Regions from separate parts of the Homo sapiens genome. Here regions 1 and 3 are each linked to region 2. Evidence: fine-mapped expression QTL. A gene starts in region 2. Each other region holds a variant in brackets. All regions are shown on one strand. Distances are between the middles of the regions. Region 1 overlaps SIRT3 (sirtuin 3). Region 2 holds the start of CIMAP1A (ciliary microtubule associated protein 1A). Region 3 overlaps PSMD13 (proteasome 26S subunit, non-ATPase 13).

What was found. PIP is the estimated chance that this variant, and not a neighbour inherited with it, causes the effect.
Region 1: its variant is fine-mapped to the expression of CIMAP1A in whole blood (INTERVAL, PIP above 0.99).
Region 3: its variant is fine-mapped to the expression of CIMAP1A in whole blood (INTERVAL, PIP above 0.99).

Annotation. Positions count from the first base shown.
Region 1 is chr11:226,144-234,321 of GRCh38, forward strand. SIRT3 (sirtuin 3) reads right to left here. Exons shown (of 7, transcript NM_012239.6): 2 at 7,200-7,391; 3 at 6,840-7,072; 4 at 4,309-4,409. Among named protein-coding and RNA genes, the nearest start is that of SIRT3, 6.1 kb to the right of the region's middle. The variant C/CA (reference allele first, on the strand shown) is at 4,981.
Region 2 is chr11:192,382-200,559 of GRCh38, forward strand. CIMAP1A (ciliary microtubule associated protein 1A) reads left to right here and starts at 4,380. Exons shown (of 7, transcript NM_053280.5): 1 at 4,380-4,665; 2 at 4,916-5,032; 3 at 5,180-5,380; 4 at 5,818-5,919; 5 at 6,083-6,204; 6 at 6,988-7,128; 7 at 7,563-7,877. The coding sequence starts at 4,924. The coding sequence ends at 7,652. SCGB1C1 (secretoglobin family 1C member 1) reads left to right here and starts at 697. Exons shown (of 3, transcript NM_145651.3): 1 at 697-773; 2 at 1,331-1,530; 3 at 2,037-2,194. The coding sequence starts at 719. The coding sequence ends at 2,069.
Region 3 is chr11:239,924-248,101 of GRCh38, forward strand. It overlaps PSMD13 (proteasome 26S subunit, non-ATPase 13), which reads left to right. Exons shown (of 13, transcript NM_002817.4): 3 at 4,118-4,152; 4 at 4,238-4,293; 5 at 4,503-4,546; 6 at 4,752-4,838; 7 at 7,354-7,525. It also overlaps the pseudogene LOC100420679. Among named protein-coding and RNA genes, the nearest start is that of PSMD13, 7.0 kb to the left of the region's middle. The variant T/C (reference allele first, on the strand shown) is at 3,894.

The sequences.
Region 1 (8,178 bases), 34 kb after region 2:
CATTAATCTCATCTTGTCTTTAATCTGTATCTGGGAAGATAAACCAGTAATCCACATTAGCAGTGTAGAGTCTTTGAAAAGGGCTGGTTTCTGTTTAGCCCTTAGTGAAGAAGCCTAATGGTGGCTGGGGAGGGAGGGGTACAGTGAGGCGCGTCTGACCTCCTCTCCTGCTACGGCCAGGAACTCAAGCTTCCAAGGTTTCTCTGGGGTTCCCTTGACCAAGGGGAGGGCTCCATTCAGTTGGTTGCAGGGCTTAGAATTTTATTTTATATTTTATTTTTTTGAGATGGCATCTCGCTCTGTCACCCAGGCTGGAGTGCAGTGGCATGATCTCGGTTCACTACAACTTCTGCCTCCTGGGTTCCAGCAATTCTCCTGCCTCAGCCTCCCGAGTAGCTGGGATTACAGATGGGTGCCACCACAAATGGCTCATCTTTGTATTTTTAGTAGAGACGGGGTTTCACCATGTTGGCCAGGCTGGTCTCAAACTCCTAACTCAGGTGATCCACCCGCCTCAGCTTCCCAAAGTACTGGGATTACAGGCAGGAGCCACCGCGCCCAGCCTAGAATTTTATTTTATTTTTCTTAAGGAAGGCCTACAATTATTATTATTATTTTTTTTTTTTTGAGATGGAGTTTCGCTCTTGTTTCCCAGGCTGGAGTGCAATGGCCTAATCTCAGCTCACCGCAACCTCCGCCTCCCTGGTTCAAGCAATTCGCCTGCCTCAGCCTCCCGAGTATCTGAGATTATAGGCATGCACCATCACGCCCGGCTAATTTTGTATTTTTAGTAGATATGGGGTTTCTCCATGTTGGTCAGGCTGGTCTCAAACTCCTGACCTCAGGCGATCCACCCACCCGGCCTCCCAAAGTACTGGGATTACGGGCGTGAGCCACCATGACCAACTGGCCTACAAATTTTAAGCAGAAGAAATAAAAGAAAATTCATATGGAAAACCACAGTGGAGAAACCGCAAAACTCCAAAGACAAAAGTCTTAAAAAACAGGCAGAGAGGCCAGACACGGTGGCTCATGCCTGTCATCCCAGCACTTTGGGAGGCCGAGGCGGGTGGATCATGAGGTCAGGAGTTCGACACCAGCCTCACCAACATAGTGAAACCCCATCTCTACTAAAAATACAAAAATTAGCTGGGCATGGTGGCGCATGCCTGCAATCCCAGCTACTCAGGAGGATGAGGCAAGAGAATCGCTTGAACCTGAGAGGGGGAGGTTGCAATGAGCTGAGATCATACCACTGCACTCCAGCCTGGGCAACAGAGCAAGACTCTATCTCAAAAAAACAAAAAATCCAAACAACAACAACAAAAATAAAACAGGCAGAGAACAGATAGCAACAGTTTCAGAAATTTATATGAAAAGCCAAAAGATTCAGACCAGCCAACACAGTACTGAAGGAGAAGAACAAAGGTGGGGAATTAACATCAACCTGTTGCCCAAATTATCTATTTTATTCTCTTATTTATTTATTTATTTTGTTTTGAGATGGAGTCTCACTCTGTCACCCAGGCTGGAGTGCAGTGGTGCGATCTCAGCTCACAGCAACCTCCCCTCCCAGGTTCAAGCAATTCTTCTGCCTCAGCCTCCTGAGTAGCTGGGATTACAGGTGCACCACCACACCTGGCTAATTTTTGTATTTTTAGTAGAGATGGGATTTCACCATTTTGGCAGGCTGCTCTCAAGCTTCCCACCTCAGGTGACCCGCCTGTCTAGGCCTCCCAAAGTGCTGGAATTACAGGCGTGAGCCACTGTGCCCAGTCCCAAATAATCTCTTTTAAATGCAAATCCCTTCACATCATTTTCCTGCCTAAAAATCCTCCAATGCCTCCCATGATCGTCAGGATACAGTTCAAACCCTAACAGAGCAAGCAGGCCTCCCACACTCCAGGTCTCTGCTGCCAGAAACAGACTCTTACATCCAGACGGCCTCATCTCAAAGGTGCTTCCCAGCCTACTCTGTTCCTACAGCTGAGTCAGTGTAGTGTCCAGTACATATTTATAGTAAAATTCGTATGGCACCCAGTTGTAACTGTTGGATGACTCCACCTTATTTTAATTTCTATTCACATCCACAGAACCCAGCAAAGGGCCTGGCACTGAGGAGACTAAACTATTTGTTGAATAAATTGGTCATTCAATGAATGAGTTGACCAAAACAATAATACGTATATATCAAGTTTCTACTATGTGCTGGACTCACACTTCCTAATTTCAAAACTTACTACAAAGCTACAGTAACCAAAACATTATAGTGCAGGCACAAGGATATACAGATAACAATGGAATAGAATTGAGACTCTAGAAATAACCCATACACCTATGGCCAACTGATTTTCAACAACAATGCCAAGACCACAGTTTTTTTAAACAAATGGTGCTGGAACAATTACATATCCACATAAAAGAAAATGAAGCTGGATCCCTACCTTACAGCGCACACAAAAATTAACTCAAAATGGATCAAAGAACTAAATGTAAAAGCTTTAAACTATAAAACTCTTATAAGAAAACAGGAGTAAAACAATACCATTTCTCAGATATGATTCCAAAAGAGTGAGAAAATAAATAGACAAACTAGATTTCATCAAAATCAAAACTTCTATGCATCAAAAGACATCAACAAAGTAAAAAAGACAACCTACAGAATGACAGAAAATATTTGCAAATCATGTCTCTGATAAGGATCTAGCTTCCAGAATATATAAAGGACTCTCTTAACAATAAAAAAGACAACACAATTAAACAATGCGCAAAGGACTTCAATCTCCAAAGATATACAAATGGCCAAAAAGCACATGGAAAGATGTTTGATATCATGAATCATTAGGAAAATGCCAATCAGTGCTACAGTGGGTTACCACCTCCCACCCACTGGGATAGCTGTAATTAAAAAATGGAAAGTAAGTGTTGGGATGTGGAAAAGATGAAACCCTTGCCCACTGTTGGTGGAATGTAAAATGGTCCAGCTTCTGCAGATAACAGTATATTCGTTCCTCAAAAAGTTAAAACGGGCCGGGCGCAGTGGCTCTCGCCTGTAATCCCACACTTTGGGAGAAAGAGGCAGGCGGATCACGAGGTCAAGAGATCGAGACATCCTGGCCAACATGGTGAAACTACTCTACTAAATACAAAAATTAGCCGGGCGTGGTGGTGTGTGCCTGTAGTCCCAGCTACTCAGGAAGCTGAGGCAGGAGAATCGCTTGAACCCAGGAGGCGGATGGTACAGTGAGCCGAGATTGCGCCACTGCACTCCAGCCTGGTGATAAGAGCTAGACTCCGTCTCAAAACAAACAAACAAAAAAGTTAAACATGGGCAGGGCATGGTGGCTCACGCCTGTAATCTTAGCACTTTGGGAGGCCGAGGCGGGTGAACCACCTGAGGTCAGGAATGCAAGAGCAGCCTGGCCAACATGGTGAAACCCCATCTCTACTAGAAATACAAAAAACATTAGCTGGGCATGGTGGCAGGCACCTGTAATCCCAGCTTCTCAGGAGGCTGAGGCAGGAGAATCGCTTGAACCCGGGAGGCAGAGGTTGTATTGAGCCGAAATCGCGCCATTGCACTCCAGCCTGGGTGACAGTGTAAGACTGTGTCTCAAAAAATAAATAAATAAATATAGCTAAACGTGGAGTTACCCAGCAATACTTGTAGGTATCATACTCAAAAGAATAAAAAACAAGGACTCTCAAACGAATACTTGCATATGCTCCACAGCAGAACTATACACAAGAGCAGAAAGGTGGGACAACCCAAACACCCATCCATGTACAAACAAACCAACTGTGGTGCATACATCAGTGGAACATTTAGCCATGAAACAGGATGAAATACTAACACAAGCTACAAGGCGAAGGAGCGAGAAACATTTTCAGGAAATAAGCTCGGCACAAAAGGCCATCTGATTGCCGGGCGTGGTGGCTCACGCCTGTAATCCCAGCTACTTAGGAGGCTGAGGCAGAAGAATTCCTTGAATCCGGGAGACGGAGGTTGCAGTGAGCCGAGATCGCCCACTGCACTCCAGCCTGGGCGACAGAGTGAGACTCAATCTCAAAAAAAAAAAAAAAAAGTGGGCAGCTGGAATTGGCTGAAGGGAGATTCATTTTCCCTACATATTTCTATATTGTCTTAAATTTTTTTACAAGCATGTATTGATTTTCTAATTTACAAATAAAATGTTTCACACTATTATTGTTCAACTGTCCTTTCGAGACAATGCTTATAAAATACCACTTTTCCAGATCACCCCAACAGCAAACTGCAGAAGGACAACCAACAGCAGGATAACTCACCCGAATGTCCTCCCCTGGGAAGGGTCTTTGGCAGACTGTGCAGGTGGCAGAGGCAAAGGTTCCATGAGCTTCAACCAGCTTTGAGGCAGGGATGCCCGACACTGAAATTCAAGCCAAAGCGAAGTGTTGCTGCCGCCTCCGAGATGAGCACGCAAGGCCAAGAGCACAACTTCTGGGCTTGGCAGGACTCCTGGAAGGAGGCACAGCCCCTTGGGGTTGTGATGTCCTCAAGCCTGGTTTTCATGCCCGTATCACCTACATGCGCCATCAACCAGAATAAGGCAGGGGAGCAAAGGGGCACCTAGCTGGAGCCAAATCACGGTTAAAACAAAGCCTGTCAAAACTCAGTACGAAAAACCATTTGATAAAAGCTCAAATAAAATTATATCCAGCCGGGCACAGTGGCCCACACCTGTAATCCCAGCACTTTGGGAGGCCGAGGTGGGCAGATCATTTGAGGCTAGGAGTTCAAGACCGGCCTGGCCATCATGGTGAAACCGTACCTCTACTAAAAATACAAAAATTAGCCAGATGTGGTGGCAGGCACCTGTAGTGCCAGCTACTCGGGGAGGCTGAGACAGGAGAATCGCTTGAACCCGGGAGGTGGAAGTTGCAGTGAGCTGAGGTCGTGCCACCGCACTCCAGTTTGGGTAAGAGAGCGAGATTCTGTCT[C/CA]AAAAAAAAAAAAAAAAATTACACCTAATACCAGGCTGGGTGCAGTGGCTCATGCCTGTAATCCCAGTGCTTTGGAAGGCCAAGGCAGGAGGATCACTTGAGGCCAGGAGTTTGAGACCAGCCTCAGCAACATAGTGAGACTTGTCTTAAAAAATTTTTTTAATTAGCCAGGCATGGTAGTGCATGCCCGTAGTCCCAGCTATTCCAGAGGCTGAGGCAAAAGGATCACTTCGGCCCAAGAGTTCAGGCTATAGTGAGCTATGATCATGCCACTGCACTCTAGCCTGGGCAACAGAGCCAAGACCCTGTCTCAAAAATTTATATCTAATATCCAGGAACATATCTTCTATTCTACAGATACCAAGTTAAAATGAGGATATAAATATCATAAATTCCAAAAGAATTGCTTGGTAGAAACAGACAAAAAGTGACTTCTTATGAAAGTTGTGTTAGTATTAACTGGTTCTGAAAGGCTGCGGTGGCACAGCCAGGGTCCCAGCTGCAGGAGGCTTCCCAAGTCCCTGTCGCTGCCCTAACTCAGCAGTGCTGAATCTCACAGCCAGGAGCTCCCACCTTCCCACAAGGCCTGCCCTGCTGCACCTCTGGGAGAAGAGCCCACCAACATGGGGCATCCGCTGCTGCCTCTGTGGTTCCAAGTCAGGGGATCCTTCTGGCAAGGAAACACATTCCTGGAGCCAAGGTGCCACCTCTTTTTAACTGACAACACATCAGCAGTCTCTCCGGGAGCCTGGCTCCCGGAGAGCTGACTGTCCCAGCACCTGTCTGCATCACTGCACGTAAGGAAAAGGCCCCACCAAGTGCTTCCGTTAGGTGCACGGCCAGAAGTTGGCACAACCTGTGAATCGCTGGTTTGGGCACCATATGGATACGGTCAAGAAATCACCACAGACTAAGTGTGACCATATTAAGGAATTACTAGTGATTCTTCAGTGTGAATCACTATCAGAGTTGTTTTTATTTTTTAATTATTTTTATTTTTATTTATTTTTTTGAGACAGAATCTCCCTCTGTCGCCCAGGCTGGAGTGAAGTGGCACGATCTCGGCTCACTGCAACCTCCGCCTGCTGGGTTCAAGAGATTCTCCTGTCTCAGCCTCCCGAGTACCTGGGATTACAGGCACACACCACCACGCCTGGCTAATTTTTTGTATTTTTAGTAGAGACGGGGTTTTGCCACGTTGGCCAGGCTGGTCTCGAACTCCCGACCTCAGGTGATCTACCTGCCTCGGCCTCCCAAAATGCTGGGATTACAGGTGTGATCCCACACCTGTAATCCGGCACCCGGCCGGAGTTGTTTTTAAAGTATTCTCTAGAGCTATCCATTCATGTGTTTATAGATTATTTCTAGATTAAATTCATGATGTGAGAGATTTGCTTCAAAATAATCTGGGGATTTGGAAGAAGGTGGTGAGGACGCAGGAAGAACTGGCTGTGTGCTGGTGATGAGGACAGGACGGTTCGTTACATTGCTCTCTTTGTGTGTGCTCAAAAAAATTCCATAATACACTTCTTAAAAGAGAGAAGAAAAAAAGAGATCATCACACCAGATTGGCAAAACAATGTCAACTTCTGCCCAAAATACACAGCTCTGCAGGTATGCAGGAGAACAAGCAGTGGCCTTTAAACACCCAGAGGACATTTTCCTTGGGAACAAAGCCCTAACTAGTTGGCTCAAAAAAAGTCCCAAGGAAGAAGCATAAGCGATAGGTTTTGGCCGTCCCCAGAAACAGGCACCCGAGCATCCCCTGTGAGAAACAGGCACCCGAGCCTCCCTGGGAGAAACAGGCACCCGAGCCTCCGTGGGAGAAAAAGAATGTGTGCGACTCACAGAGGGCTCACCTCTCTCAAGCCCATCGATGTTCTGCGTGTAGAGCCGCAGAAGCAGCCCCTTGTCATGAAGCAGCCGGAGAAAGTAGTGAGTGACGTTGGGCTTGTAGTTTCCAGGGTACAGCTCCTTGGCCAAAGTGAAAAAGGGCTTGGGGTTGTGAAAGAAGAATGGGAGTTCAAAAATGGCCTCGGGGTACGGGAGATCGTACTGCTGGAGGTTGCTGTACAGGCCACTCCCCGGCGATCTGCAGGGAGAGAAGAAAGGCTCTGAGGCCTTTGGAAGAGGACAGGGAAGTGGAATAAACTGGGCAGTGGGGAGGGCAGGAGTCAGGGGAGGGGAGCGCAGAAGGCAGGTGGGACTGTGGGCAGTACCTGAAGTCTGGAATGCCACTGGGTGTGCTGATGCCGGCCCCCACCATGACCACCACCCTCTGGCAGGCTCTGGCCCGAATCAGCTCAGCTACATCCTGCAGGGAAAGCTTCCCCTTGTCACTGCTGCCTCCACTTCCAACAACACTTGAAGCACCCACAGAAAAAGATATGGACCTTCTTCCACCTTTAATACTGACAGAAAAAAACACAGCAGCAAAGGAAACAGATAGCAACCAATCTCAGGATAGCAAGAACGAGCATGGCTCTGCCCTCTGCACCACCGCCACCCTCGAGAATGAGCATGTGTGTCTCCCCAGGCCTCTCAAAATAATCACCTTTCTTAGACGACTATTGGGGTACAACAAAAAGCAGTCATAAATCAGAAATCAAGACTTACTTGGGAGCAAAAAATTCAGGTTAATGGGAACTGTGCTCATTTCATAATTCAGTACACTCAGTAGGCACTCAACTCTGACTGACTGCAAACCTCCAAAGGGGTCTCCTAATGAAAACTGGTTAAGGAGTCAAGAAGCAAAGAGGGAAAACCCTGGTTCTAAAACCATCTCACCACCTATTAAGCGCCCCACTTCACACAGCATTTCAGACATCTATTCACTTAAGGTCGTTCCCCAAACAGCTACTGTGCTCCTACTAAACACGAACTGTTAAGAGAAGCACAAAAGGAATGAAAGTTATTATTGCTGTTGAGTGCCTGCTGAGGGCAAGGTATCACGAAGGGTGCCTGAGTACATTCCTCATTTACGTAAATAAAATGTTTGTGAGTCACTGAAAAACACATAAACGGCGTTTTACCAAATGTCTGGAACATACGTAAGATGTATGGCTTAAAGTACATGCTGCATGGTGTGAAATTCACTGGGAGTGGGGGACCCTGAGGGGCAGGCATGGGTGCAACCTGGGAGGGACACTGTGCAAAGGACACAAACAACAAATTCAGAGAGCTCAAAAATCCAAAGCC
Region 2 (8,178 bases):
CAAGCCCTCCTTGCTATCCTGGCTACTGATGGAAGATGTACCTCAAGCCTGTCCCATTCCTCACTTCCTGCTGAGACCTGGCCCCAACATGGCCAGCTCTATGTTCCTCAGACCCTCTCAGGCCACCTTCTCTCTTCTAGGCACTGTCACTGGGCTTCTCCCCACCCCATAGATCCACAGCCCCCAGGTAGTCCTACAGCTGTGTCCACTCGTGCAGCCTGCACCCCCTTCCCCTACTCGGCCACCCCATCTGAGTAGTAAGGGGCCCCTGCCTGATTGGAGACCCCCAGATGCAGACCCAGATCACACAGCACACTGATAAGAGGAGGGATTCGCACCTTAAAAGAAAGGCGTGGGACCAACCCCAGATCCCACCACTCTCGGCCTCAAGGGCAGGCATGACTAGAGGCCCTTGGTGGCCAGGACCCACTGCCTTCTTCACCGATCAGTTGGCATGGCCTCTCACCAGTGTTCCCTCCTAACACACCTGTTCTCTCTCTCACACACCCTAAAGCCGCTTGCCAACCACCTGTCACACAGCCACTCCATGCCTGTTGCTGCTTGGCACCCACTGGGGGCCAGGGATGTGAACAAACCTCATCTAAGCTGGCTGCCGGGTCCTAATGGGCAGGTCCGGTCCGCCCTCTAGGAGAGGTGCTGTCCGGTGAGGCATAAAATCCCGGGATTCTGGCTGGAGGCAGCTCCTGAGACTGCTGGCATGAAGGGGAGCCGTGCCCTCCTGCTGGTGGCCCTCACCCTGTTCTGCATCTGCCGTGAGTCTGTGCCACTGGGGTTTCCAGAACATTCAGGGGTGGGGGGGAGTGGGGGGTACCTGAGAAGGTAAAATCCTGGCATCGGGCCTCTGCAGTGAACACTCCACCTGCTTCTGTCACAGAAGTGGGCAAGGACCCTGCAGAACCCGCGCCCACCCTACTCCACCCCAACCAAGGACAAAGCCCAGCTGACCCAACACCAGCCCAGTGTCTCCTACCCCAGCCCAGTCCAGCCTGACCTGACCCTTCAAGCCTCTGGTCATAATAGCCTCTCATCAGGGGAAATTTCCCCCACACCAGGAGCTTAACTTTCCTTCCCTGGTGATCCCAGGGAATGCTGAGTGGAAATTGGAGCAGCTAAGATTAAGGGGGATGTGGAGGGGTCTTCGGGCAAGGTGGAGTTGGAGGTGTTGTGGAGGAAGCCCTGGGGAGGAGAGGTGGGCATTGAAGGGGAAGGTCTGGAGACCATGGAGGTTGGAGCCCTGGGGCAGGTCCAGGGCTGTGGTTGCACCAGAGTCACCCTGTCCTGTCCTGGCATCATCTCGCTCGTGATGCAGGGATGGCCACAGGGGAGGACAACGATGAGTTTTTCATGGACTTCCTGCAAACACTACTGGTGGGGACCCCAGAGGAGCTCTATGAGGGGACCTTGGGCAAGTACAATGTCAACGAAGATGCCAAGGCAGCAATGACTGAACTCAAGTCCTGTATAGATGGCCTGCAGCCAATGCACAAGGCGGAGCTGGTCAAGCTGCTGGTATGAGGGCGGCGGGCACCCCATTTTCTAAAGATCTGCAGCCTTACCAAGACCACCCAACACAGCACCCACACAGCCTACCCCACCCACAGACATCCACCACCCACAGACATTGCACCCGCATCAGCCAGCTCAGGTGGACACCCCAGACCTCCTGTCCACCGAGCAGCCCCCAGACTCCATAGACCTCCTCCCCAGTCTGTGGGATACTCCTCCATGCACACATGTGAACATACACAGAGATCCAAACACAGGTGCAGACATGAAATGTACACTGCGTGCACACATGTATAAACACGTTCACACCCACATGCTCACACTGGGATATGCACACACATACATGTGTGCACACCATCACATGTGCACACACACCTCCCAGCTGCTGGGAGGAGATAGGCAGCAATATGCCAGACCCCCCCCCACTGAGGGCCTTGCTTGCCTGATGGAGCTGTGGCTCTCCACTTATTGAGCACAGCCCTCTTAGTCCACATGTGTCTGCCTTCCAGGTGCAAGTGCTGGGCAGTCAGGACGGTGCCTAAGTGGACCTCAGACATGGCTCAGCCATAGGACCTGCCACACAAGCAGCCGTGGACACAACGCCCACTACCACCTCCCACATGGAAATGTATCCTCAAACCGTTTAATCAATAAAGCCTCTTCCGCAGCTCAGGCTCCTGTCTCTGCCCCCACAGAGGGGCACACAAATGGGGACATCAGGAACACACTCGGGGCCACAGCCACACACACAGACCCACATACAGAGGATCCCACTCAAGGAGCACACGTGCGAAAGTCCCCACAGAGGGACACACAAATGGGGACATCAGGAACACAGGGCCACAGCCACACACACAGACCCACATACAGAGGATCCTACTCAAGGAGCACACGTGCGAAAGTCCCCCACAGAGGGACACACAAATGGGGACATCAGGAACACAGGGCCACAGCCACACACACAGACCCACATACAGAGGATCCCACTCAAGGAACACACGTGTGAAAGTCCCCACAGAGGTACACACAAATGGGGACATCAGGAACACAGGGCCACAGCCACACACACAGACCCACATACAGAGGATCCCACTCAAGGAACACACGTGTGAAAGTCCCCACAGAGGTACACACAGGGTCCACACAGGAGCAGGCACACCACAGGCAAGACCCAAAATGGAAATCCAGGCAGACGCCACGTAGGCAGGTGGACAGAGCACAGAGCCAGACAACACTGCGTGGTCGTCCGGAGGGGGCGTCTGGAGGGGGCGTCCGGAGGGAGACGGGCGGCAGAGGCAGCGGTATGAGGTGGGAGCCCCAGAAAGAGGAAGTGTCCAGGACTGGGTGGACACAGACCCCATGTCGCCCATGGGCTAGGTCAGGGCGGGGGTGCTCAGCATCTGAAAGCTGGTGTCGAGCCCCAAGAGGACCCCTGACAAGGCCAAGAAAAAGGTACACCCATGTCCAAGGGGGTTGGGAGCCGCAGGTGAGCAGCCTCTGAGGTCAGCCAGGGCAGCCCCAGCGCCCACACTGACTCACACCCACCACAACCAGCACAGACCCTGATCCTGACCCTGGATCCCAGACTCTCCCACAGCCAGAACCTTCCAGCATTTCAGCTGCCCAATCTATGGTCTCTTCTGGGGGCACAGCTGAGTGGAACCGCCCCATCCTTGGCCACCCTGGGTGCTGAGCCCTGACACTTCACTGCCCCGGCCCTCCTCTCCACACCTCTGTCCTGTCTGAGCCTGGCAAGGGGGCCATGCGGTGCTGTCGGCTCTGTGCTCTGTCCCACCTGCCTACATGGTATCTGCCTGGATTTCCATTTGGCTGAGGGAGCCCTAGGGAGGGGGCCCTGGAGGACTTGGTTACAGGGGACCTGGTGAGGGGACCCAGTGAGGGGGACTTCATGGGTGGGTGCCTGGTTGAGGGGACCTGGTGAAAGAAACATGGTGAGGGGGCCTGGTGAGGGGTGGTCTGGTGAGGGAACTTAGGGAAACCTGGTGAGGAGGACCTGGTGAGGGGACATGGGGGGGACCTTGGTGAGGGGACCTGGTGAGGGGACATAGGGGGACCTTGGTGAGCGGACCTGGTGAGGGGACATGGGGGGGACCTTGGTGAGGGGACCTGGTGAGGAGGACATGGGGGGGACCTTGGTGAGGGGACCTGGTGAGGGGACATGGGGGGGACCTTGGTGAGGGGACCTGGTGAGGGGACCTGGTGAGGGGACATAGGGGGGGACCTTGGTGAGGGGACCTGGTGAGGGGACATGGGGGGGACCTTGGTGAGGAGGACCTGGTGAGGGGACATGGGGGGGACCTTGGTGAGGGGACCTGGTGAGGGGACATGAGGGGGACCTTGGTGAGGGGACCTGGTGAGGAGGACATGGGGGGGACCTTGGTGAGGGGACCTGGTGAGGGGACATGGGGGGGACCTTGGTGAGGAGGACCTGGTGAGGGGACATGGGGGGGACCTTGGTGAGGGGACCTGGTGAGGGGACATGGGGGGGACCTTGGTGAGGGGACCTGGTGAGGGGACATGGGGGGGACCTTGGTGAGGGGACCTGGTGAGGGGACATGGGGGGGACCTTGGTGAGGGGACCTGGTGAGGGGACCTGGTGAGGAGGACATGGGTGGGGAGCCTTGGTGAGGGGACCTGGTGAGGAGGACCTGGTGAGGGGAACATGGTGAGGGGAACATGGTCAGGGGGACTTATAGGGGTGTCCTGTTGGGGGGACCTGGTGGTGAGATCTGGTGAGGGGATCAAAGGCAGAAGCCATTGTCTTGGTCACATAGACAGAATCTAGAACCTGTCATCCCACAGAGCCACATTCTAGAGTTTAGAGTGGGGGACCTCTCCCCAATTCTGTAAGCCCATGAGGAGAGAGGAAGGCCTTTCTCTCCATGCTCCTTTTGCGGGAACTCCCTGGCACCAAGGCCAGGGGGGAAAGGACAGTCTCTGATGAGGATGGGTCTCTAGGCTGCTCTGAGTGCTGTCCCTGCACTGAAGAAGTTATAGTTCCCTCCCAGGCGGCCCCCTCCCTGCCCCTCAGCTCAGCCTCAATCAAGAAGTTCCCCATCTTTGACCACTCCAAGTAGGAGAAACCGGCCCAGGGCTCCCTTAGAGCCGAGAACAGTGGTGAGTTAAGGGCCAGCATGGACAGCAACTCTGGGTTACAGTTAAGCTGGTGAGGAGCTCACAGACCCATGCAGAAAGCTCCTACTGTCCCTGACTCCTGGCTCCCAGCTGGAGATCCCCACTGATGCTGCAGCAGGTTCCGCAGGTCTTACCCTTCAGTGTCAGCAAGAGCAGGGTCGGGGACATCAGGGGCCGGCATGGGACAGGGCCGGGCCTCCCAGCACCTGGTAACCCTCTCACTTACGGACAGAGCTGGCCATGACGGAGGAGGTATGGATGGGTACCTGGAGGCCCCATCGCCCCCGGGGACCCATCATGGCCCTCTACAGCAGCCCTGGACCCAAGTACCTGATTCCACCAACAACAGGTAAGAGCCTGAGAGACTGTGGGAGAGGGTCAGGAGCCAGGCGGGCAGGTGGGGGTCCCGGGAAGGGCCTGGGGCTCAATCCCTGACTCCCAGCGGGGAGAAGGGCAGGTCAGGCTCCGGGCTGCTCAGGGCCCATTGCGTCCACAGGCTTCATGAAGCACACGCCCACCAAGCTGCGTGCACCGGCCTACAGCTTCCGTGGGGCCCCCATGCTCCTGGCAGAGAACTGCTCCCCAGGGCCCCGTTACAATGTAAACCCCAAGATACTGAGGACTGGCAAGGACCTTGGCCCTGCCTACTCCATCCTGGGGCGCTACCAAACCAAGACCATGCTGACTCCTGGTCCAGGTTAGTGACCCTGTCTCAGGCTCCTGCCCTGCGCAGCCTCAGGCCTGCCCCTCCCTGCTGGGTGCCCCTAACCTCATGTCAGCAAGGGTGTGGGAGAGCTCAGCCATCCTGGCCCCTCCCGTCCCATCTTTCTCTCTTGAGGGGTCACCATCGTGCCTGGGCAGAGAAGACTCTGGCCCAAGAGTCCAGCTCCGACCTGGACCTTTCTCTGCCAGGCCGACGTCAGACCCCACTCTCCCTGCTCAAAAATAGCCTTTGTCTCACCAGCCCTGAAGTCAGCATTTCCATCCTGGACACCCCCTGACCCGACTTGGTCACCACCTGTGTTGGAGCCCAGAGGCCCCACGCCTAGAATGTTGGGGAGTCCTCCTTGAGCCCCCAAACTGGGCTGCATACCCACCTGCTTGTCCCAGCAGCCCCCTTGGCTCCTTGTCCAGGTGACTACTTTCCAGAGAAATCCACCAAGTACGTGTTCGACTCAGCACCCAGCCACTCCATCTCTGCCCGGACAAAGGCATTCCGAGTGGACAGCACCCCAGGTCCGCAGCAGCCCCAACCATCCTCAGCCAAATGGACCTGGGGATCCTGGGTGGGGTGTGTGACATGGGGCAGCCCGACGGCTGATCTCCAGAGTTGGGGGAGAGCCCCAGGGAAGGAGCAGTGGGCCCTGTTCCGGCCTGAGGCTCCACGTCCACCCTGCAGGCCCCGCTGCGTACATGCTGCCCATGGTAATGGGGCCCAATACCGTCGGCAAGGCCTCCCAGCCCTCCTTTTCCATCAAGGGCCGCAGCAAGCTGGGCGGCTTCAGCGACGACCTACACAAGGCAAGGGCCACCCCAACTGAGAACAGAGAATCACCCCCAACCATCTGAACCCTCCCCCGGAACCCAGGACCCACCAGTTCGGCCCTGCCTTGCCAATGCCCCTCAGCCCCCTCAGCCCTTCACCCTCTGGGCACCTGCCACGTGCTGGGGTTACACTGCAGTGGTGAGGAGGGGCAGGCAACAGGCCAGAAGGGAGACGCCCTGGCCCCAGCATGGACCGTGCTGAGGACAAGAGATGGGGTTTAGGAAGCACTGTCTGGAGAGAGAGAGGCAATCTTAGATAGGGTAGCATGGAAAGAAGAGGAGGAGGAAAAAATAAACCATGAGCTATTTGGGGGAGGAGGGTCCTGGTTTCAGAAACAGCCAGTGCAAAGCCCCTGGGTGGCACATGCCTGAGAGCTTGAGGGGCCTGAGATGGGGAAGCAGCATCATGGCACCCAACAGCCCTCGTCCATGTTGATTTTGCCAGCCCCAGGCCCTCAGGTCCAACAGGGCAGCAACAGCCTCTCTCACACACGCTCAGCGATGTTCCCAGGACTGGCACACACTGGGGATGCCATTGCCAGCGTGAGGCTGAAATGGAGGAAGTGACCCCCACATGAGGTACCCCACAAGCAGTGGGGTGTGATCTCCACAGTGTGACAGAAGACAGAAGGGGACCTTGATGCACGGGCACCAACTTGTAGCTGACCCTGTTGACTCAGAGCCTGAGTTTGCTCCCTGTCCTCTAGGGCCACACGCCCTGGGTAGGCCGAGTTGGTCTGAGCCTCCTTTACCTCTCAGACCCCAGGTCCCGCAGCCTACCGCCAAACTGATGTGCGGGTGACCAAGTTCAAGGCTCCGCAGTACACCATGGCTGCCCGTGTGGAGCCCCCAGGGGACAAGACCCTCAAGCCAGGACCAGGCGCCCACAGCCCTGAGAAGGTCCAGGAAGAGCACAGCTCAGAGGGGTCAGGGTGGGGCAGGGTCCTGGCCCAGAGGGATGTGTAGGAAAGAGCAGGGAGGGGGGCTGGGACACAGACGAGGGGAAACAGGGTCAGGCTATGGAAGGACACAGCCAAGAAGGGGTGGAGGGGTGGGGTGGGGATGGGAGGCACCTGCACCCTGAGGACCCTGTACATTTCCAGCACTAGGCCCACAGGTAACCCTTCAGGGACATGGAAGCAGAGACCCTGCCCTTTTCCCTAGACACTGTGACAGCTACTACTGCTGAGTGCTCTGTGTTCAAACCTGGGAGCATAGCTTCTGGCCACCTTGGCCCCAGGTTCAGGAAGGACAGCAGCCCAGCCCCAGCCAGGGCAGAGACCTGCAGGTGGGGGCAGGGGTGCTGGTTCCTATCATAGCCCCTCCTCTCCCAGGTGACCCTGACCAAGCCCTGCGCCCCAGTTGTCACCTTCGGCATCAAACACTCTGATTACATGACTCCCCTGCTGGTTGATGTGGAATAACGCCAGCCCTGCTGTGCCCCATCACACCCGGCATCTACACAAGATCCGCCGGGCCACAGAGCTCGAGGCTGTCTTCACCAGCTGGGCTGGGCCAGCCTGGCCCTGCAGGGCAGAGCACGCTTGTTTGGGCAATTGTAATCAGTTACTTTTTTTCTATGCTATTTTACCATTTTTTAATCTTGTTTTCTGCTGTGCCCAAATTATTAATAAATCAGATTGCATTAATAAGGGTTTGTCTTGGTGGAAGGATCAAGCATTTCCAGAAAGGAGCCCCCGTAGGCTGTCAGCACTTGCCCACAAGGGGTCCCATCCTGCCTTCTAGGGCCCAGGGTCAGCTTGGTGAGATGGGAGGGCCCAGGGTCTGTGTGGGGAGAGATGGTAGGGCCTGAGTACCTCAGACACCCTGCTCCACACTGTCCCTCCTGATGCTTTCTGCCTTGAACCCAAAGATGGCCACACCTGTGCTCATCACCTCTGAGCAATGCTGGGTCCCTTCCCTTGAATCTGGACTATAGCCTGTGGGTGT
Region 3 (8,178 bases), 48 kb after region 2:
CAATAGAGCTTACCACCTTGCTACCCCACCACCTGGGCTTGTAAGATTTTCTTGTGGTTTATAGCCATCAATTTGACATTTTACTATTCAGAGGAACTTACAATCATCTGTAAGCCTGGAGATTTTGCTGAACATTCAGTCTTCTGGATTATGTGGGAAAATGATAAATGAGACCTGCTTTTTTTTTTTTTTTTTTTTTTTTTTTGACGGAGTTTCGCTCTTGTTGCCCGGGCTGGAGTGCAATGGTGCGATCTTGGCTCACTGCAACTTCCACCTCCCGAGTTCAAGCGATTCTTCTGCCTCAGCGTCCCAAGTAGCTGGGATTACAGGTGCCCACCACCACAGCCAGCTGATTTTTGTATTTCTTAGTAGAGATGGGGTTTCACCAGTGTTGGCCAGGCTGGTCTCAGACTCCTGACCTCAGGTGATCTGCCTGCCTTGGCCTCCCAGAGTGCTGGGATTATAGGCAGGAGCCACTGTGCCTGGCCTGAGACCTGTCTTAATACTTGTTCCCTAAGGTTCTAAATCATCACGATAGATGATTCATAATTGTTTATCTCTGTCCTTTGGTTTCTTATCTTTAAATCACTTTTCTACACATGACAAAATATTTCCTCAACCTCATGGTAAGGTGATGTTTATTTAGGTTGGCAGATCTGAGTTTACTTTTCCCATAGACAGAATAAACCTTTAAAATTTGTTGGGATCCAGCTAGCATAAGTGTAAAATGGATAGTATTTTTGAATTTATAGTCACCAGAAGTAATTTTGACTTTCTGGACTTAGTGGGCTTCTTTTTTAAGGTAATTTTTTAGATTAATACATGTCAGGAAAGTTCAAACATTTCCTTCTAATAAGGAAGATATCTTTGAAATAGTCTTTTGTAATAAAAATGCCATTTTATTTATTTATTATTATTATTTTTTGAGACGGAGTTTCATTCTTATCACCCAGGCTGGAGTGCAATGGCACAGTCTCAGCTCACTACATCCTCCTCCTCCCGGGTTCCAGTGATTCTCCTGCCACAGCCTCCAGAGTAGCTGGGATTACAGGCACCCGCCACCACGCCTGGATAATTTTTGTATTTTTAGTAGAGACAGGGTTTCATCATGTTGACCAGGCTGGTCTCAAACTCCTAACCTCAGGCGATCCACCCGCCTTGGCCTCCCAAAGTGCTGGGATTACAGGTGTGAACCACCACCTGGCCACCATTTTATTTATTTTGGGTGGGCAAAGGGACAGAGTCTCGCACTGTCGCCCAGGCTGGAGTGCAATGGCAGATCTCAGCTCGCTGCAACCTCCGTCTCCCCAGTTCAAGCCATTCTCATGCCTCAGCCTCCCAAGTAGCTGGGATTACAAGCGTGTGCCACCACACCTGGCTAATTTTTGTAGTTTTAGTAGAGATGGCATTTCACCATGTTGGCCAGGCTGGTCTTGAACTCCTGTCCTCACGTGATCCACCAGCCTCGGCCTCCCAAAGTGCTACATAACAGACGTGAGCCACAGCACCGGGACAAAAATGCCATTTTATTTAGTTGACTGTTTCTTGTGTGCCTGATTGGAATATGTAATTGCTACAGGGGTGTTTTCATCCTTCTACCTTCATATCCCAGAGGAACTACAGGCTCTCCTAATCCAAAGTTAAGGTCATTTGGAGGTTCCCTCTCCTACTGTGCCCACACTAGGCGCTCTTGGCCCAGTTACCCCTAACTCAGGGGTTATTGTCAGCTCTCCTTCTCTGTGACCGGCCCACATCTGAGTGAGTCTGGTTCGTTACCCCTAAATCTCTCTCAAATTATTCATCCATCCTCATTACGGTTGCTCCCTCACTCTCCTGTCTTGGCCAGTACTAGCCTCTGACTGTTCTCTCTCAGTCTCTTTCACCTGCTGTCCTCTCTGCCCCAGGCGTGTTTCTAAAATAGAAATGATCATGTGTGTCCTCTGGTTCGGCCTTGCACTCTGGACAGAGACCAATCTTCAGTGCTTCCTAGTCTGTGTCCCTCAGAAATGCCCCTGAAACATAATGTATTTTTTTCTTCAGTGCTTTTGCACATGTTTGTTACTGTCTGGAATGTTCTTCTCTCAGCTTCTTCCCCTCCCACACCAAATGGCCACCTCTCTAACCGCCCTTCATTCCTTGAAACTCAGTATTGCCACTTCTACAGTAACCTTTGAAGCCTCTCCCTTTGGCTGATGCACTTCTGCCCCTTTTTTTTTCTTTCTTTCTTTTTGCTCTTAAACTCACTGTATTGTCATTTATTTGTTTAAAGACTGTCTTCAGTGGACCAGGAGCTCCTTGAAGACACATCATTTGTCTTACACGTTCTATGTTGTAGTATCTAGTATGGAGTCTGAGGAAGTGCTCAAGTGTGCTGAATGGCTAAGAAATTTGAAAACGGTGCATAATTAGCTTTAATTAAAATCTGAAGGAACTCCATTCTGTTTGATTAGCAAACATTTCTCTTTTTGTTTTAAATTTTATTTCATTAACTTAATAGGTGAACAAAATGTGTATTTCAAATCTAATTGAAATTCATCTGAAACATGTTTACACAGAAGATAGATATAAGATTTCAAGTAACTTATTGTACAGTCCATTGTCCATTTTAAGATATTCTTTCTTCCAAAAAAACTGCGTTGAATGTCAAAAAAAATCTTTTATACTCCATAAAATTGAGATGCAAACTTCTGATATAAATTTTTTTCACTGTCAACTCCGATGATAAAGATGGGAGGCACAAGCGTTCACAGTTCAGTTAAATGATGCAAACGAAAAGCTTCTGTTTTCCTTTGATACAAATTAGAAGCCTCCATTCAGGTCTCTTACAGTAGTACCGCATACTTGATCCTGATACTACATTATGTCTTTTTCTTTTTCTCTTTTTTTTTTGAGATGGAGTTTCACTCTTGTTGCCTAGGCTGGAATGCAATGGCACAATCTCAGCTCACAGCAACCTCTGCCTCCCTGGTTCAAGCGATTCTTCTGCCTCAGCCTCCCAAGTAGCTGGGACTACAGGCGCGCGCCACCATGCCCAGCTGATTTTTGTATTTTTAGTAGAGACGGGGTTTCACCATGTTGACCAGGATGGTTCCAATCTCTTGACCTCATGATCCACCCACCTCTGCCTCCCAAAGTGCTGGGATTACAGGCGTGAGCCACTGCGCCCGGATGGTTACGTCTTTTTCTTTCCCTTTTTTTACTTCCCTCTCCTTGTTGAAGACTTTGGTCACCACCTCCTGTTTTTTTGTGTCCTTGTTTTTAATTTAGGTATCATTTATGCTGCACACAACATTACTGACTTAACGTGGTGGGAAATGTACAAGATAGAGGCTGCCATTTTCCTGTTTGAGCTGGGCCCAGATTCTGCTTTTATATTGAACATCACGATTCCATTCTCTAGAGAACATTTTATTTTTCTCAAGAAATGCATTAAGTCCAACTGCTAAACATAGATCTTGAATCTCTAGCTGTAGGATTTTCAACAGTCTTACTTATGGGGATTCACCTTCCTTCCACAATGGTCTTATTATTTAAATGAGTAGGACAGATACAAATAAACCTGAACATAGATCTTGAATCTCTGGCTGTAGGATTTTCAACAGCCTTACTTATGGGATTCACCTTCCTTCCACAGTGGTCTTCTTATTATTTAAATAAGCAGGATAGATACAAATAAACCTGTCCTGGTAGGCTGGGGACCACACGGCAGCGCAGGCCATCTTCACAAGGGTCCAAATACCAACAGCCCGGAAGCCACAGGGAGAGAACTGAGGGAGCGTTTCAATCTGATAGTCTATTTAGCTTACAGTACCTGGAAGAAAGAATATAGGAATCTGTCTGGAGGTTCTTATAGGTCAGTACTCTAATTCCCAAAACTAGAAGAAACCTAATAT[T/C]CCTTAGTAATCTGTTGATCATTTATGTGAATGTAAGTAAGCCCTGATATGGTCTCCTATCATTCTGCAAACATGCATTGCTTACTGTGTGCTGGGCACTGTGGCTTGCACACTCCCAACTTGATAGCATTGATGCAGCTTCTTTACCAAAGATAGTGTTTGGGGTCTTCGTTTTGCAGAATAAAAGACATCCTATAATTTCTCTCCATGTTTTGGTTTCACAGCTTTATGAAAACTTTATCAGTGAATTTGAACACAGGTAAAAGCCTCTCATCCGTTTTTCACTTTGAAAATGAGTGCATTGATGCTCGGCGGTGCTCAAAGGCTGGTGGCTTTTATTTCAGGGTGAACCCTTTGTCCCTCGTGGAAATCATTCTTCATGTAGTTAGACAGATGACTGGTAAGTCTCACTTTGTTTTATAAAGGAGCAGATCCAAATGGTGGTTAAAATTGAAATATAAGTTAACTGAACTTTTGTGTTTTCTGTATCAGATATTATGTTTTTATTATACTTTATGGTCAAAACCTAAAGATTACCCTACCTAAGGGTGTCTTGGTTAGCAGAAACCAGTCTGTTGATGGTCCTTCTGATTGTTCCTTCTTTTCCAGATCCTAATGTGGCTCTTACTTTTCTGGAAAAGACTCGTGAGAAGGTAAATGTGGCATGTGGGCAATACCTTTTAGTACCTTTTAGAGTATGTATGACTTAACAGCTTGTGTTCATGCTCACTGTCCAGACCTTTAGAGACCACAAGGCCTCTAGTCATCAAGGTTAAGTTAATGTACAAGTAGCTAGCTTCCTTTGTTAGTCAACTGCCCACATTCTGAGGTTTCTTGTTTTTGTTTTTGATGTCTTAGGTGAAAAGTAGTGATGAGGCAGTGATCCTGTGTAAAACAGCAATTGGAGCTCTAAAATTAAACATCGGGGACCTACAGGTTACAAAGGTGAGATCACCATAATACAGATTTATCTTTGGTTTAAAATTATTTAAAACCCTAGGAAAAAAAATAACCTATTTTTCTTCTTTACTGTTTATTTTAAAACATTTTTACATTACAGAAAAGTTGCAAAAATAACACAAAGAACTACTATACCCCAACCTAAATTTCCCATTGCAAACCTTTTTTTTTTTTTTTTTTTAAAGACGGAGTCTCGCTCTGTTTCCCAGGCTGGAGTGCAATGGTGCAATCTCGGCCCACCGCAACCTCCGCCTCACGGGTTCAAGCAATTCTCCTGCCTCAACCTCCTGAGTAGCTGGAATTACAGGCGCGTGCCTCCCTGCCCGGCTAATTTTTTTGTATTTTTAGTAGAGACAGGGTTTCGCCATGTTGGCCAGGCTGGTCTGGAACTCCTGACCTCAAGTGATCCCTCTGCCTCAGCCTCCCAAAGTGCTGGGATTACAGCCGTGAGCCGCTGCGCCCAGCCCCCCCGATTGCTAACCTTTTACCGCTTTTGCCTTTGTGTGTGTCTGTAGCTTTTTTCCAAAACCACTTAGGAGTAAGTTGCTGATACAATGCCTGTTGCCCTTAAACAAAAGAGCACTCCCCTGTGTGACCACAGCACATCCGTCTAATAATGACTCCACATGGCCTCAGTCAGCCCAAAGCACATTGGTTCTCCCTGACCAAGGTCAGCCTACACACCACTGGCATGTCACGTGCTATTTCTCCATCTTCCTTCTGCCTCCTAAATGTTGTTGAAGTATCCTGTCTATTTTTATGTCTTTCTTATGTTCAATTATGTTTTGGTGCAGTTGGGAGACAGGTATGGATGTGGGTGGCAGTGAAACCGACATGTGGCTGGTCCACCTGGTTGAACCAGAACGTGTGTGTGTGTGTGTGTGTGTGTGTGTGTGTGTGTGTGTTTGCATGTGTGTTCGTGTGTTTGTGTGTGTTTGTGTGTGTGTGTTTGTGTGTGTGTGTGTTTGCTAATCACAATGTTAAAGAAAATATTGGGGGTAAGGGTTAAAGTGTTCATGTCCTCATTGCCCTGAAAAGATACTTTTTATTGTTTATTGTCAGTCCTAACCCATATGCATACTTAGTGCATTTTATTTTCAAATATTTTAAGACATATTGAAAGCTATAAGTCACAGTACAGAATGCTGTAATAGGCATCCATGTGCCCCAACCAGCTTAGGAAGGAATGAAGCCACACGGCACAGTCAGGGTCCCAGTACCCTTCAGACCACACTTCTCCCCCAGCCAGGCTCCCTCTCATGCCCATGCATTTCCTTGTCCTTCATTAAATAGGGGTGTGTAACTCAAGCGTTTTAACATTGGCTCAATACTAGGTTTCAGAGTCATGTGGGTATGTGTAACCAATGTGCTGTTACTCCTATACGGTATTTCATTGTATAAGTGTTTCACAACATATGTATCCAGTCTCCTATTGAAGAGATTTAGGGCCAGGTGCGATGGTCACACCTGTAATCCCAGCACTTTGGGAGGCTGAGGCAGGTGGATCACAAGGTCAGGAGTTCAAGACCAACCCAGCCAAGATGGTAAAACCCCGTCTCTACTAAAACCACAAAAATTAGCCGGGCATGGTGGCGGGCGCCTGTAGTCCCAGCCACTCGGGAGGCTGAGGCAGCGAATTGCTTCAGCCTGCAAGGCGGAGGTTGCAGTGAGCCGAGATCGCACCACTGCACTACAGCTTGGGCAACAGAGCGAGACTCTGTCTCAAAAAAAAAGGGAGATTTAGGTTGTTTTTTTTACTATCACAAACAGTACTGCCATAAGTATTTCTGTGCCTGGTCCCTTGTGTGTGGGCAGAATCTCACCAAGATGTATGCCTAGAGACTACAGGTACAAGCTGTGTGCATCTCTGCCTTTCCCAGATACATGCTCCCTCAGCACCATATGAGTACTCTGGAAGCTCCATGTCTTCAACACCTGATAGTTTCAGGCTCTAACTCTTGCTGATCTAATAGAAGTGAAATTATATCTTGTTGGGGGTTTAATTTGCATTTCACAATTACTAGTGGTTTATTGGCCATTCTGTTTGTGTCCCCAAATTTGTCAATTGCCTGTTAATGTCTTTTGCCCATTTTTCTACTGTGTTGCTTGTCTCCTGACTCATTTGTAAGTGTTTTTATATTTCCTTGGTCATAATTGCTGGTGGGTTATAAATGTTGTAAATATTGTTTCCCAGTCTGTAGCTTGTCTTTGTACTTTTTTCTGTGTTTTGGATTAAGTTTTCCATTTTAACGCGGTCACATTCATCAGTCTTTGCCTTGGTAGTTGATGCTTTTCATCTCACAATATATTACTTTAAAAATCTTAGCCAAGCACAGTGGCTTGAACCTGTAATCCCAGCTACTACAGAGGCTGAGGTGGGAGGATCACTTGAGGCCAGGAGTTCAAGACCACCCTAGGCAACAGAGTGAGACCCTGTCTCTAAAAAAATAAAATAAACTTTTAACTTAAAAAGAGAGATGATTTTCCTTCCTGTGTATAGGAAACAATTGAAGATGTTGAAGAAATGCTCAACAACCTTCCTGGTGTGACATCGGTTCACAGTCGTTTCTATGATCTCTCCAGTAAATACTATCAAACAATCGGAAACCACGCGTCCTACTACAAAGATGCTCTGCGGTTTTTGGGCTGTGTTGACATCAAGGATCTACCAGGTAACCTAGGCCATTAAATCCATGTCACACAGGAGCATATTCTCCAAACTTAGCATCTGTGAGTTGCTTGAGGTGACAGTTCTCAGAAATTACTAAGGTGGGGCTGGGCACGGTGGCTCACGCCTGTAATCCCAGCACTTTGGAAGGCTGAAGTGAGTGGATCACCTGAGGTCAGGAGTTCGAGACCAGCCTGGCCAACATGGTGAAACCCTGTCTCTACTAAAAATACAAAAAACTAGCCAGGTGTGATGGTGGGTGCCTGTAATCCCAGTTACTCAGGAGTCTGAGGCAGGAGAATCACTTGAACTCGGGAGGTGGAGGTTGCAGTGAGCCAAGATTGTACCACTGCACCCCAGCCTGGGTGACAGAGCGAGACTCCATCTCATCCAAACAAAAAAGAAATTACTCAGATGGATTCATCCTGTTTTGAAGAAAAAAATGGGAAGATTTGTGTAACCTTTAGTTTCTACATTATATTTGTCTCCAGCATTTAATTTACATGAAAATGAGGCTAATTCCTCCTCGCTCCTTCACTGTCCCTTCTCCAGTCCCTCACTGTTACCTAAGCCACAGGTATTTGTAGGAAGCACCATGACGCCAACACCTTCTGAGCCCTCCCCGCCCACCCCTCTGCTGCAGAATAAAGGGCACGT